2 separate regions of the Homo sapiens genome follow, and region 1 is linked to region 2. The links come from fine-mapping of genetic effects on gene expression. Tissue or cell type: monocytes after LPS. Region 2 holds a variant in brackets; the other region holds the start of a gene. All regions are shown on one strand. Distances are between the middles of the regions.

Region 1 (5,230 bases), 72 kb before region 2:
TGAATGAAAAGGCTTAGCCATCTAGCCTATTTTCATTATTTGTGAAGAAAAATCAGCACCACTGAGTCCTTGGGGTCCCTAGGACTGGAACGATGGCACTAGAGGGAGGACTAAGGTTAACAAGGCCAGTTCCTCCCCCAAAATGCTCCCACTCCAGGAACACAGGCCTGCCTCACTGTGCTCAGGACAGGGGCAGCTCCATTCCTCCACAGCAGAGCTTCTCTGTGGATTCTTCCGTGACCTACACAGGGCTGCCTGGTTTCCAAGCCCTTCCCTAGGGCTCCAAACTAGGGTGTGTGTGTGTATGTGTGTGTGTATGTGTGTGTGGTGTGCTGCATGTGTTGTGTGAGGTGTGATGCGTGTGTGTGTGCAGCCCAGGTTTGGTCTGTGGGAGGGGTGTGTTATGTGGTGTGTGTGTGGTGTGGTGTGTGTGGTGTGGTGTGCATGGTGTGTGTGGTATGTGTGGTGTGTGGTCTGGTGTGTGGTGTATGTGTGGGTGTGGGTGTGTGTGGTGTGTAGGGGTGTGTAGGGGTGTGTGTGGTATGTGGGTGTGGTGTGTGTAGTGTGTGTGGTGTGTGGTGTGTGGTGTGGGGAGTGTGGGGGTGTTGTGTGTAGTGTGTGGTGTTTGTATGGTGTGGGTTGTGTGTGTGTGTGGCGGGGGGTGTGGGGGAGTGTGGGGGGTGTGTATGTGGCATGTGGTATGTGTGTGGTGTGTGGCATGTGTGTGGTGTGTGTGTGGTGTGTGGTGTGTGTGTGGTGTGTGTGTGGTGTGTGGCATGTGTGTGGTGTCTGTGTGTGGTGTGTGTGGCGTGTGTGTGGTGGGGTGTGGGGGGGTGTGGGGAGTGGTGTGTGTGTAGGGTGTGTGGTGTGTGTTTGGTGTGTGTGGTGTTTGGGTGTGTGGTGTGTGTGTGGTGTGTTGGTGTGTGGTGTATGGTGTGTGTGTGTGGTGTGTGGTGTTTGTGTATGCGGTGTGTGTGGCGTGTGTGTGTGCGTGTGTGGTGTGTGTGGTGTATGGTTTGTGTGTGGTGTGTGCGGTGTGTGTGTGTGGTGTGTGTGGTGTGTGTGTGTGGTGTGTGTGGTGTGTGGGTGTGTGGTGTGTGGTGTGTATCTGTGCGTGTGTGGTGTGTGCTGTGTGTGAGTGTGGGGTGTGTGTGTGTGTGTGTGTGTGTGTGTGTGTGTGTGTGTGTGTCGGGGGAGGGGTATACGCAGTTTCCGTGCGGAAAGATGGTGTCTTTCCTTCACAGGGCTGCGCGGGCACCCATCCCCGCTGCAAAGCGCCCGGGCCAGGCGCGGCTTGCTCCGGGTCGGGGCGAGCTCGCTGCCCTCTGCGGCAGACAGCGATGCGCGCTCCCCGCCCCAGCTCCCGGCTCGCCCGGCGGCCCGCGCGCCCTCCCGGTGCAGCATGCGGGCGCTGTGACGTTCTCGGATAAATGCCGTGTAACTGTGTAGGCGAATGAGAGCTAAAAATAAGAACGGAAAATCTATCATTAAGGTATCATTGCGCCAGCGCAGCTATTTGAAGGCTCCCATGGTCCCCGGCGCCTGCGTTTGAAGCCCGCCTTCAGGCTTTGGGGGGTATTTGCAGAAAACTCCCAGCAGCGGCTCGCCAACCAGACCTCAGGGTGCACGGGGGGTGGCGCCGGTAATTATGGCAACTCTCAAAATAAAATAATATAAAATAAAGTAACCAACGTTCACCAACCACCACCCCATCTCACCCCCTGTACTGTCCTCAGGTAGCTGGGGAAGCCGCCGGGAGTGCAGCCGGATGCTGGAATTCAATGTGACCCGGCTGACTATGCAAAGACTAGGACTGGACGCTTTTGCAGCTCTATTTCGCCACCCACCTTCCTCCTTCCACCTCGTATTAGAAATAAAGTGGGGGGGGGGGGCGAGCCTTTGGAGGAGAAAATGACAACTGGCACTTAACCCCAGGTCTACAGTGCGCCGCGGTGGGGCGCAAAGACGCAAACTCCCGGGATGGCGAGCCTTCGGGGTTTCATTGGGTTAAACGAAAATTGATCTGATTTGCTTTTTAACATCCGAGGGAGAGAAGGGGAGATGAGGGGAGGGAGGGCAGGGTTTGAGTGTGTGCGTGTGCGTGTGCGTGTGTGTGTGTCTGGGGAGGGGGAGGAGGCACCAAGTTGCAGCCTGCGCGCGGCTCTGCGCCTCGGCGGGGCTGCGTGCGTGTGTCCCTGTCCGCGCTGCTGAAACGGGCTCTTCGAGGGATCGGCGTCACATGACTCCGCCTGCCCCTCGCCAGCGCGCAGATCGCCAGTCCCTCAGTTTGCCCGGCACCGGAGGAGGGTCGGGCGGCATCTTCCGGGTACTGGGGCTCTGCGGAGCGGAGAAGAGGTTCCAGCGGGGAATGGTATATCTGGATTCAAGAAGCCGCGGCTCGGCGCCAGATCCTGGAGTGTAGATATTTGGGGGGAGGGGAGAGCTAGAGGGAGCGAGCGAGCGAGCGCCAGAGAGAGGCAGCGCGCAGCGCGCACGGACGGGGGGCTGCTGCGCGGAGAAGATGTAAGCGCGTGGGGTCTCGCTGGCCTCTGAGCACCATGCAGAAGGGGATCCGGCTGAATGATGGCCACGTCGCGTCCCTGGGACTGCTGGCGCGCAAGGACGGCACGCGCAAAGGCTACCTGAGCAAGCGGAGTTCGGACAACACAAAATGGCAAACCAAGTGGTTCGCGCTGCTGCAGAACCTGCTCTTCTACTTCGAGAGCGACTCGAGCTCGCGGCCCTCGGGGCTTTACCTGCTGGAGGGCTGCGTCTGCGACCGCGCGCCCTCCCCCAAGCCGGCGCTGTCGGCCAAGGAGCCGCTGGAGAAACAGGTGAGGCGAGCGTCGCGTCCTGACCTCCCTGCGTCCCGGCCGCGGCCCTGGGGGCTCAGGGCCTTCGGCTGGCTGATGGCGCTTGAACTTTGGCCCCTCTACTCTTGGCGCCCTAGGCGCTCTCTGCACCCTCAGCGAGAGGGGAGGCTTGCTCCCAGCCAGGCGAGTGACTGCGGCGGGCAGAGGGGGCAGGGATTGAGGGCGGGGAGTAGATGTGGGCTGCGGCTGCCCTTCGCCGGACGAGCCCCGTGGGAGGCGGGTACAGAGGGGCCGACACCTGGAGATGCAGAGGAAGATGGGGTCCTAAGGACCAGAGACGATGAGTCTGGACACACGTCCAGCCAAAAATGGTGCTCCCAACCCCCACTCCCACCGCCCAGCCCTAATAGCCCCGATCGTCTGTTCTACACCGGGAACGTGTAATTCCCCGCGCTTAGGCATGGGAAGGGCAAGACGGAGGCGTCCGAGCGCTGCCAGCCCTTGCCTCGCCGCAGCTGAGGGCGGAGAGCGGTCTGCGCTAGCTCCTCGGAGTTGGGCTGGGGTTATGGGGCTACACGGGTCGGTTCGGTACCATCGAGCGGTGGTGGGCTCCCAGCTGGCGGCCGCCGGAGCAACAAGCCCAAAGATTCCCAAGGACCGCTCTGATGCGCCGGGGCTAGGGCCAGGGCTGCTGCGGAGGCAGCGGGACGAAGTGGGCGCTTCTCTCCTCCCCCGCCCCCTGCGCCGCCGCCGCCGCCGCAGTCGCGGCTATAGCGCTGCGCTCTGGTTTCCTGAGCTGCAAGGCTGAAGAGCCAGGCCTGGCTCTAACAGGGAGCCCGGGCGGGGTGGGGGTGAGCCTCTGGCGTGAAGGGAGGAGGGGCACCTGCAGAGAGAGCCACCTTTAAGCTTGGTGCGCTTTCCAAAAGCATCTGGTCCAGTCCCTTGCCACTAGGAAGATAAAGCAGATGATAGTGGATCCTAAAATGCCACTGCAGGCAGGAACCTTCCATCCATAGGGCCTAACGGCTGGTGATTGCCTAGATGGGGACACTGAGGCCCAGAGAGAGAAATTCACTTGCCCAGCGTCATGCAAGTTGTTGAGGCCGTCCCAATGTTCTGAAAAGACAACCGAGATCTCAAAAGCCACTGCTGCATGAAGACACAGACTGGTGGTGATTGAATTGGTTGAAATAAAAGCATCGCTTGAAGTCTTCCTCCCAATTGTCAGGACAGAGATCCGAGCTCAGTCTCTCTAGCACATCTCTTCCTTCCCTACCTTCAGCCAATGGGTGTTAGGAGATAGTTTCTGAGGACTGGGAAGTGTGGACAGGAATTTTTGAGGGTGGGTCCCTGGGGATGACAAGCCATGTGGTGAGCAGGGGCTCCCAGATGGAAAGAAGAGCAAAGAGCAGGCAGCTCCTTAAGCTTCAGCTCAAATGGAGCCTGGGGAACTCATGTGGAAGAGCCAGTCCCAGGCCAGACTAGAGAATTTGCTCTCAGCCCTTCAGAACTTGCCCCTCTCCAGCCAGTGTCTACCCATATACCCATACCTACCCGGGGCCTGCAGCCCAAGCCCCAGCCCCAGCCAGATCCCCCCTCCATCCCTCAACCCACTACACTAGATCACAGAGCTGAGCTCCTGGGTAGGCAGGAAGTGAGGGGTGGGGGAAGCCAAGTTGGCATGGGCTCATATTATCTGTTCTCAGCCCCCTGGACGTGAAGGCAGACAGGCCTGAGACTGAATCTCAGCTGTATGACTTCCTGGCTGTGTGACTTCAGTTAACTTGCTGAACTTCTCTGAGTTTCCATTTTGTAATCTACAAAATGAAGATAATAACACCTACCTTTCTGGGGTTTTGAGAGCCCTACATTAAATAATGTATATGAAAGTAAGCGCCCAATACATTTTAGTTAGATCTAGACGAATCACAGTTGAATCTGAATTATACCCACCTGGACAGAGCTATTTAGGTCACCAGATGTTAAAGTCGAACAGAACCTCAGAGATACAGCCTTCCCATTTTACAGACCAAGAAACTGAGAGGCAAAGAAAGGGAGTTACCCAACAACGGGGTAAATCAGTGGCAGAATCAGACCTAGAATTCATCCAATGCCTAAGAATTCCTGAAAATGAGACCCTACATTGATTTCAAATCATCCAACTCTTGGCCCAGGTATTGAATCATCCTAGCAGTAGATCATGGGAGGAACATCAGTGCAAAACTAATTGATGAGATGCACTCATGTTCAGAGCTGTTTCCCCAGAACACTACTAGTCAGAGATCCTCAGGTTTGTTCACGAGAGCAGCCCTCCTGGCACAAGAGAACAGAACCGGGTTAAAAGTAGCAGATGATGGTCTGGCGCAAATTTCTGTTAAAGACTCATACTTAAATCACATATGTTTATATAGGTTCCA
Region 2 (5,916 bases):
GGCTGGAGGCCTCAGTTCCTCATTCATAGACCTCTCCCCACAACATGCCAGTTGGTGTCCCCCACAACAGGTGATGCAAGAGACAGCAAGAGAGCAAGCAGGAGAATGTGGTCTCCAAAGTGGCACACCATCACTTCTGATTTATTCTTTTAATTAGATGTAAGCCACTAAGTCCAGCTCACACTCAAGAGGAAGGGAATTAGGCTTTGCCTTTTGAAAAGAAAAATGTGAAAGAATTTGTGAACATGTCTTACAACCACCACAGCTGTGGCCACTCTTATTTCTCACTACAATGTTAAGGGACCTCCTACCCAAGAGATGCTCCCACACTCATGGATGGGAGGCATTTTTCCAGGTATTCCTAATAATTAAAATAAGTAACTGACCAGGACTGGGATCGGGCCCTTGAGGCTCTCTCCAGACTCACTGCTAACTTGCCAGCGGACCTTGAACAAGACATGCAACTTCTCTGTCTTCATTTCTTCACCTGTAAAATGAGAATTACAATACCCATAAGACCAGCCTCTGTCTTCCTGTGGGTAACCTGATAGCTTTGGCCTAAAACGGGGGATTTCAAACCTCTGCAGATTTAGGGCTATGAAGCGATGCCCTGGAGCTGCTGTGGAAGCAAGAAGGGGCCAAGCAGGCCAGGTTCTGTCCGCTCCACCCATGGCCAGAACTCAACCTTGGTTTGGGGAAGGCCTCTCTGAGACAATCTCCTTTGACCCACTTCATTGAGCTTCTTATATGAAGATAAAGTCCTTCCACTGAAAAAGCAAAATACCCACTTGGCATATAATATATCCATCCATACATCTGTGTGTATACATGGATGCTCCTTGTTAAAGTCCCCTCCAACCCTATCATCCAGGGACTCCTAAACCAGCATATCTACCCCTCAATCCAAAGCAGCCCCTGCTGCTCTTTTTCAGAATGGAGTCATATCCCTCATTGACTGCACTTTATTGGAGGAGCCAGAAAGCACGGAGGAGGAAGGTGAGTGTGAAAGCTGCATGTGCGCATGTGTGTGCTTGCACAGATACACACACGCTCACTCCTAAAGGTTGGGCCAGGCATTAGTTTCTTTGGGAGGAATGGAGGATGCTGAAGTGCGGAGGGGAGGTCCACACATGCCCTCATGCACACACCCTGTTCAGTCCCTGCTACAGCTGGGCTTTGCTCCCCTTGTACTTCCAATAAGGTGTGGAGAGGCCAGAGCCTGAGGCTTTAAAGAAAGAGCTCCCAGCCCGGCAGGTGATGACCCTGATCCACCTTCCTGGTTCGTTCCAAGCTCCCTGGGCTGCTGGACCAGTTGGCACTGTTAGGTTTTGGGGTCACAGCATCTCAGTGAGCACCCCTCATTCACACACCTGTGTGTGACATGCACAAGGGCTCTTGGGGCCATGTGCTGGAAGCCAGGGACACACCCAGCCCTATCTCTGTCCTGCAGTGGAAAAGGAAAGAATGTGCAGGGGCCACTGACAGAGGGATTGCAGGGCTGAGGGTCCTGAGAGAGAGAACCATGCCCTTGCAGGGGCCAGGAGGGGAGGCAAGACCTCGGTGAGAAGGGGCTGAACAACTCAAATGGGGCTGAATGGGGAAGTGTGCGGAGGGCAGAGTCCTTGGTGCTGTGATGTTTGATGGGATTTATCTCCCAAGGCATCAGAATTGGAGGTGGGGTCATTATTCAGATTAGGGGGTGGGATCACTACTCTCTCTTGATTGGGCCAAAGTTGGCACTCATTTCCCTTCTTCACTGACCCCAAGCCAAGACCCTCAGAGATGTCTCTGGATGCCCTGCCCTGTGGGGACACCAGCAGGACCCGTGCTCTTTTCCCTCCTCAGACTGGGCCTCCTGGGGTGGGCTGTGTCTGAAGCACCTCAGCATCACAGGCCCAGCATGGCATGGGGATGGGCATGGGCCTGGGGGTTGCCACACACACGCTTGGCAAACACACACACACACACGCCCTCATGCACACACCCTGTTCAGCCCCTGTTACCACTGGGTTCTGCTCCCCTCATGCCCTTCCAATAAGGGCCAAATCAAGTGGTTCCCCAAGGGAAGAATAAACGAGGAGGCAGCTTACCTGGAGCCTTCCTACCAGTGCAGCCTTCTTTCATCTTGGCCACAGCAGGTCCACAGGAAAACCCAGGCTCAAGTGGCACTGTCAGGCCCCAAAACTCTTTACCCTCCTAGGCCCAGGGAGGTGGGATCCTGGCCACAAGCGTTCCCCACCTGAAACACACCCACACACAGGCACCCACTTCTCAGAGACTCCAGCACAGTCCCAGGAGAATGGGCTCCCTCGTGCCCAGCAAGGACTCCTAAAATTCTCAGGTGTCAGAACTGGAAGGGACAGGAACCTCAGAGAAATCAAGTCCCACTCCTGTTGCACAGGAGGACATCTGAAGCCCAGAGGGGGAAGGAAACCACCTCAACATCACACAGCCATAGAGCTTTGGAGCAAAGCAGAACCAAAGCAGGCCCTTTACACCATGAACCCATTCAGTGCACCCCTAATTAATGTGAGTGCATTGAAAAGAATCTTGAAGCTGTGGTTTTAGTTTTTCCAAATAAACAGCTTTCAAGACTTCAAGGGACTTTCAGGTTAAGAGCAGTAACAAAAATACCTAGAATTCACTTTTGCTTTGGGGAGCTCTAAACTGAACTAAATGTCCAGCCCAATCCATAAAAGTTTAAGACCTTGAAGTTCCTCATTTGGCCCCAGAACCACCTTGGGGTAGCAGGAGGGCCTGGCTGAGAGGCCCATTCTAGCCCTGCCCTGGCTTGGCCACCACCCTGCTGGGAGCCTTGGGCAAGTCCTCGCCCGTGACCTCACCTCCATTGGTGTAATGAGGGCAGAGGGCAGACTGTGATTCCTAAAGGCTCTCCTGCTCTGAATCCGGAACTGCCCCTGAGTGGTTGTAAGCTACGTCTTAGTTCTTCCATCTTTGAAATGGGGATTTCCCACTTAGGAAAATAATATTCTGAAAGTAGCAGCAATTGGCCTGGTGCCTTACCAACGCAGAGCCTCCACTGGTACGTACGACAGGGACCACTAAAACATTTTCCACCTGAAAAGGCGT[C/T]CACATTCATGCTGCTAACTTTATGTTTTACAACTGGAAGCCAAAGGATCCGGCCAAGACATAGATCACTTGGATTTTAAAATCGGGGTGGAGCCAAAGGATTCCCCGCCCTTTACAGTCATCCTAGTGGCCTCGTCCAGACAGGAGAAGGCAGCGTGGACCAGTGACATCAGCCAGGTGAGTAGCGTCACCTGTTCCTGAAAGCGAGTGGTCCCTTCATGCCTAACCAGGTCAGGGATTTGGCTGGTGGCAGGTAGGGGGTGGGGGTGGTGGAGTAGCTGCACTGTTCTACAGAGAAAGATGCAAGAATCTTCCAAGTCCACAGCCCTACCCAAAGCTGAGCTCAGCTAGTCCATCCCGTTTGTAGTCCCCTGGGTCACCTTGAAAGTGTGGTCTGGAAACCCCTCTTGCATCTGTATCACCTAGCAAGGTGATTTTAAAAACTTCAGTTTCCTGGACCCTTCTCCCCTTTCCCCACTATCCTGCAGACCTACAGATCTAAATTGTTGGCATGTGACCTGTAAATCCGCATTTTAGTACATGCCCCAGGTCATTGATACGCACAGAAAAGTCTGAACATATTAGATGTAATAATGTTCACAGCGAGAGAACGGTGTCCCTGAAAGCCAAGGGTAGCTTCTTCAGTGAGTCGGGGCAGCTACCTAAGATCAAACCCAGCCTCAATTATGCACACGGAAGATTTAGTTTTGCTTTGGCCTGCTGTAAGCATTAGGGTCATTCACCCTATTTGGAGCATTAAGCAGGAAGCACAGACTTTTCCAGGCACCAGTGAGCAGACCCAGAATGCCCATGGGTGCCTAAAGTACAAGGGGTGAGACTTGAGTCTATAAAGAGGCTGTCAGCAGCACCGGGGTTTAGGCCCCAGGACAGGCCCCTCCCTGAGCCCAGCAAGGGCCTGTGATGGGTCAGGGATGTGCCATCCCAGCAGCTGGGAGCCTTGGCCATCCTCTCTGCGGGGTGGGGTGGTAGGAGAGCAGCCAACAGCAGAAGGGGAGGGAGGTTGGTGGCCCCCCATGGTCTAGAGGGTTGCAGGAGGCCTGTGCCTGTAGAAACTGAAAGGGCAGGGCAGCATCTTCGTGGGACCTAGGACGGCTTCCCTTGCTTGCTCCCCACCTTCTTGGTTTTGTGCCCCTTCCAGGCTCCCCTGACTGCCGCTCCCAGCCTTCCTTCTGGCCCACCTGCCCATCTCGCAGTCCCAGAGGAGTAAGGCGGGTGGGATGATGCATGGCACGTGCCTGTTCTGAGTCTTCCCACATGTCTTCAAAACACCCAGAAAGCCCTAGAGAAAACTGCAGACCCTGAGCTTTGCCCTTTCACATCCCCAGTGAGCCGCAGCCGTCAAAGGCCTGGGGCTGCTTGCCCAGAGGGTGCCCACCAGGCCTCTGCCCTCCTGGCAGCCGTTGTGGATGCCAGTGAAGGGGTCAAGGTGGGAGTCCTCTGGCCCCTTCCCCAAGCCCTCCTGCCTCCATAACACTCTGAGCCCATGGCCAAGTCTTCTTTGTTTTGGAGTTGCTGGTAGAACCAAAGCTAGAGAGATTGTCAGATGGGTGGGAGAAGTGGGGCTGAGAAATGCAAATGACAGAAGCCTCCCTCTTTGGGGTCGTGGCCTTGCCCAGAAGTCTGGGCCTGGGAGCTCCACCACCCACTGTGCCAGCTCTCAGCTGCCACTTCCCAATGACTTTGACACCCTCCTCCCTGCAACACACACATTCTCAAAACCAGAAGATTCTGTGATGTGCCACCAAGCCTTCCCTATCGCTATGCCAAGAAGAAACCCTCTCATGGCAGAAATGTGAAGACCCAGGGCAGGGGACAGTGCAGGGGAAAAGAGGCAGCTCCCCCAAGAGATGCAGTTTTTATTTTTGTTTGGGCGGGTACTTCCTATTCAAAGCAAAATTTGGATTTTGAATATTTTTGGAGGCCGAGTGAAATGTACAATCATCTGTGCCCCTCCCGCCAGCAGCCTTGCCTTCTCCAGGGCCCCACACCCATGGACTCTTCATATGGAAAACCATCCACAGCATCCAAGTGTTGGCACTGTGGTGGTCAGAGGACAGAGAGAACAGTTCAGCACCCTCGTGCAGTGGCGCAGAGGCCCTGCTGGGCTGGCCTCCCAGGAGAGAGATCCCACATCACCATGGATCTGATCTTGTCCTTGACACTGGACCCCAGAGGTCAGCAACAGAATGGTCAGTGTCAGATGCATTCATTTTGCATCCCAGTGGTTGTTTGTAATCAACCCAGTGAGGTAGAAGTCATTATCCCCACTTTGCATATAATGAAACTAAGACTTGAGGTCAAGTAAGTTCCCCAAGGTCATTCAACTGAGACTTGACTTCCGGCCAAAGTCTAAAGGATGCGCCACGCTGACCCTGCCTTTGCCAGGACAATGCCCTTGAAGCTTGAGGACCCTGTATCAGACTGAGGCATGTGAACTTTACAGTTGGCAGAGCTCCTGGTGGGCCTGGGTCCAGGAATGGAGAGCTCTGACCCTGGGGTCCTCTCTCTGATTCCAGTGTGTGGATAACATCCGATGCAATGGGCTCATGATGAACGCATTTGAAGAAAATTCCAAGGTCACTGTGCCGCAGATGATCAAGTAAGTGCCCTTAACCCCATCTTGACCAGGCAGCATTCCAGAGACTGAGTACCACAAGGTGACAGCCAGGACACTGGGATGAGCCAGCTACTGGGGTTCAGAGATGCTGGGCTTTGTCTTTGGGGGTGTTTTGGATGTTTTCTTGTTTGTTTGTTTTGAGTTGGGTGATTGCTATTTGGATGATTGCTTTGGCTTAGTTTTTTGGG

Which allele goes with the higher level. Alleles are on the strand shown, and positions count from the first base shown. SD is a standard deviation of normalised expression in the study named.
As copies of T replace C in region 2, the expression in monocytes after LPS of the gene that starts at base 2,277 in region 1 goes up (moderate effect, 0.65 SD a copy in Quach 2016).

What was found. PIP is the estimated chance that this variant, and not a neighbour inherited with it, causes the effect.
Region 1: it holds the start of RASGRF1, and the variant in region 2 is fine-mapped to the expression of RASGRF1 in monocytes after LPS (Quach 2016, PIP 0.95).

The regions. Positions count from the first base shown.
Region 1 is chr15:79,087,827-79,093,056 of GRCh38, reverse strand. It overlaps RASGRF1 (Ras protein specific guanine nucleotide releasing factor 1), which reads left to right and starts at 2,277. Exons shown (of 27, transcript NM_001145648.3): 1 at 2,277-2,834. The coding sequence starts at 2,559.
Region 2 is chr15:79,015,121-79,021,036 of GRCh38, reverse strand. It overlaps RASGRF1 (Ras protein specific guanine nucleotide releasing factor 1), which reads left to right. Exons shown (of 27, transcript NM_001145648.3): 11 at 933-996; 12 at 3,131-3,267; 13 at 5,628-5,710. Among named protein-coding and RNA genes, the nearest start is that of RASGRF1, 73 kb to the left of the region's middle. The variant C/T (reference allele first, on the strand shown) is at 3,091.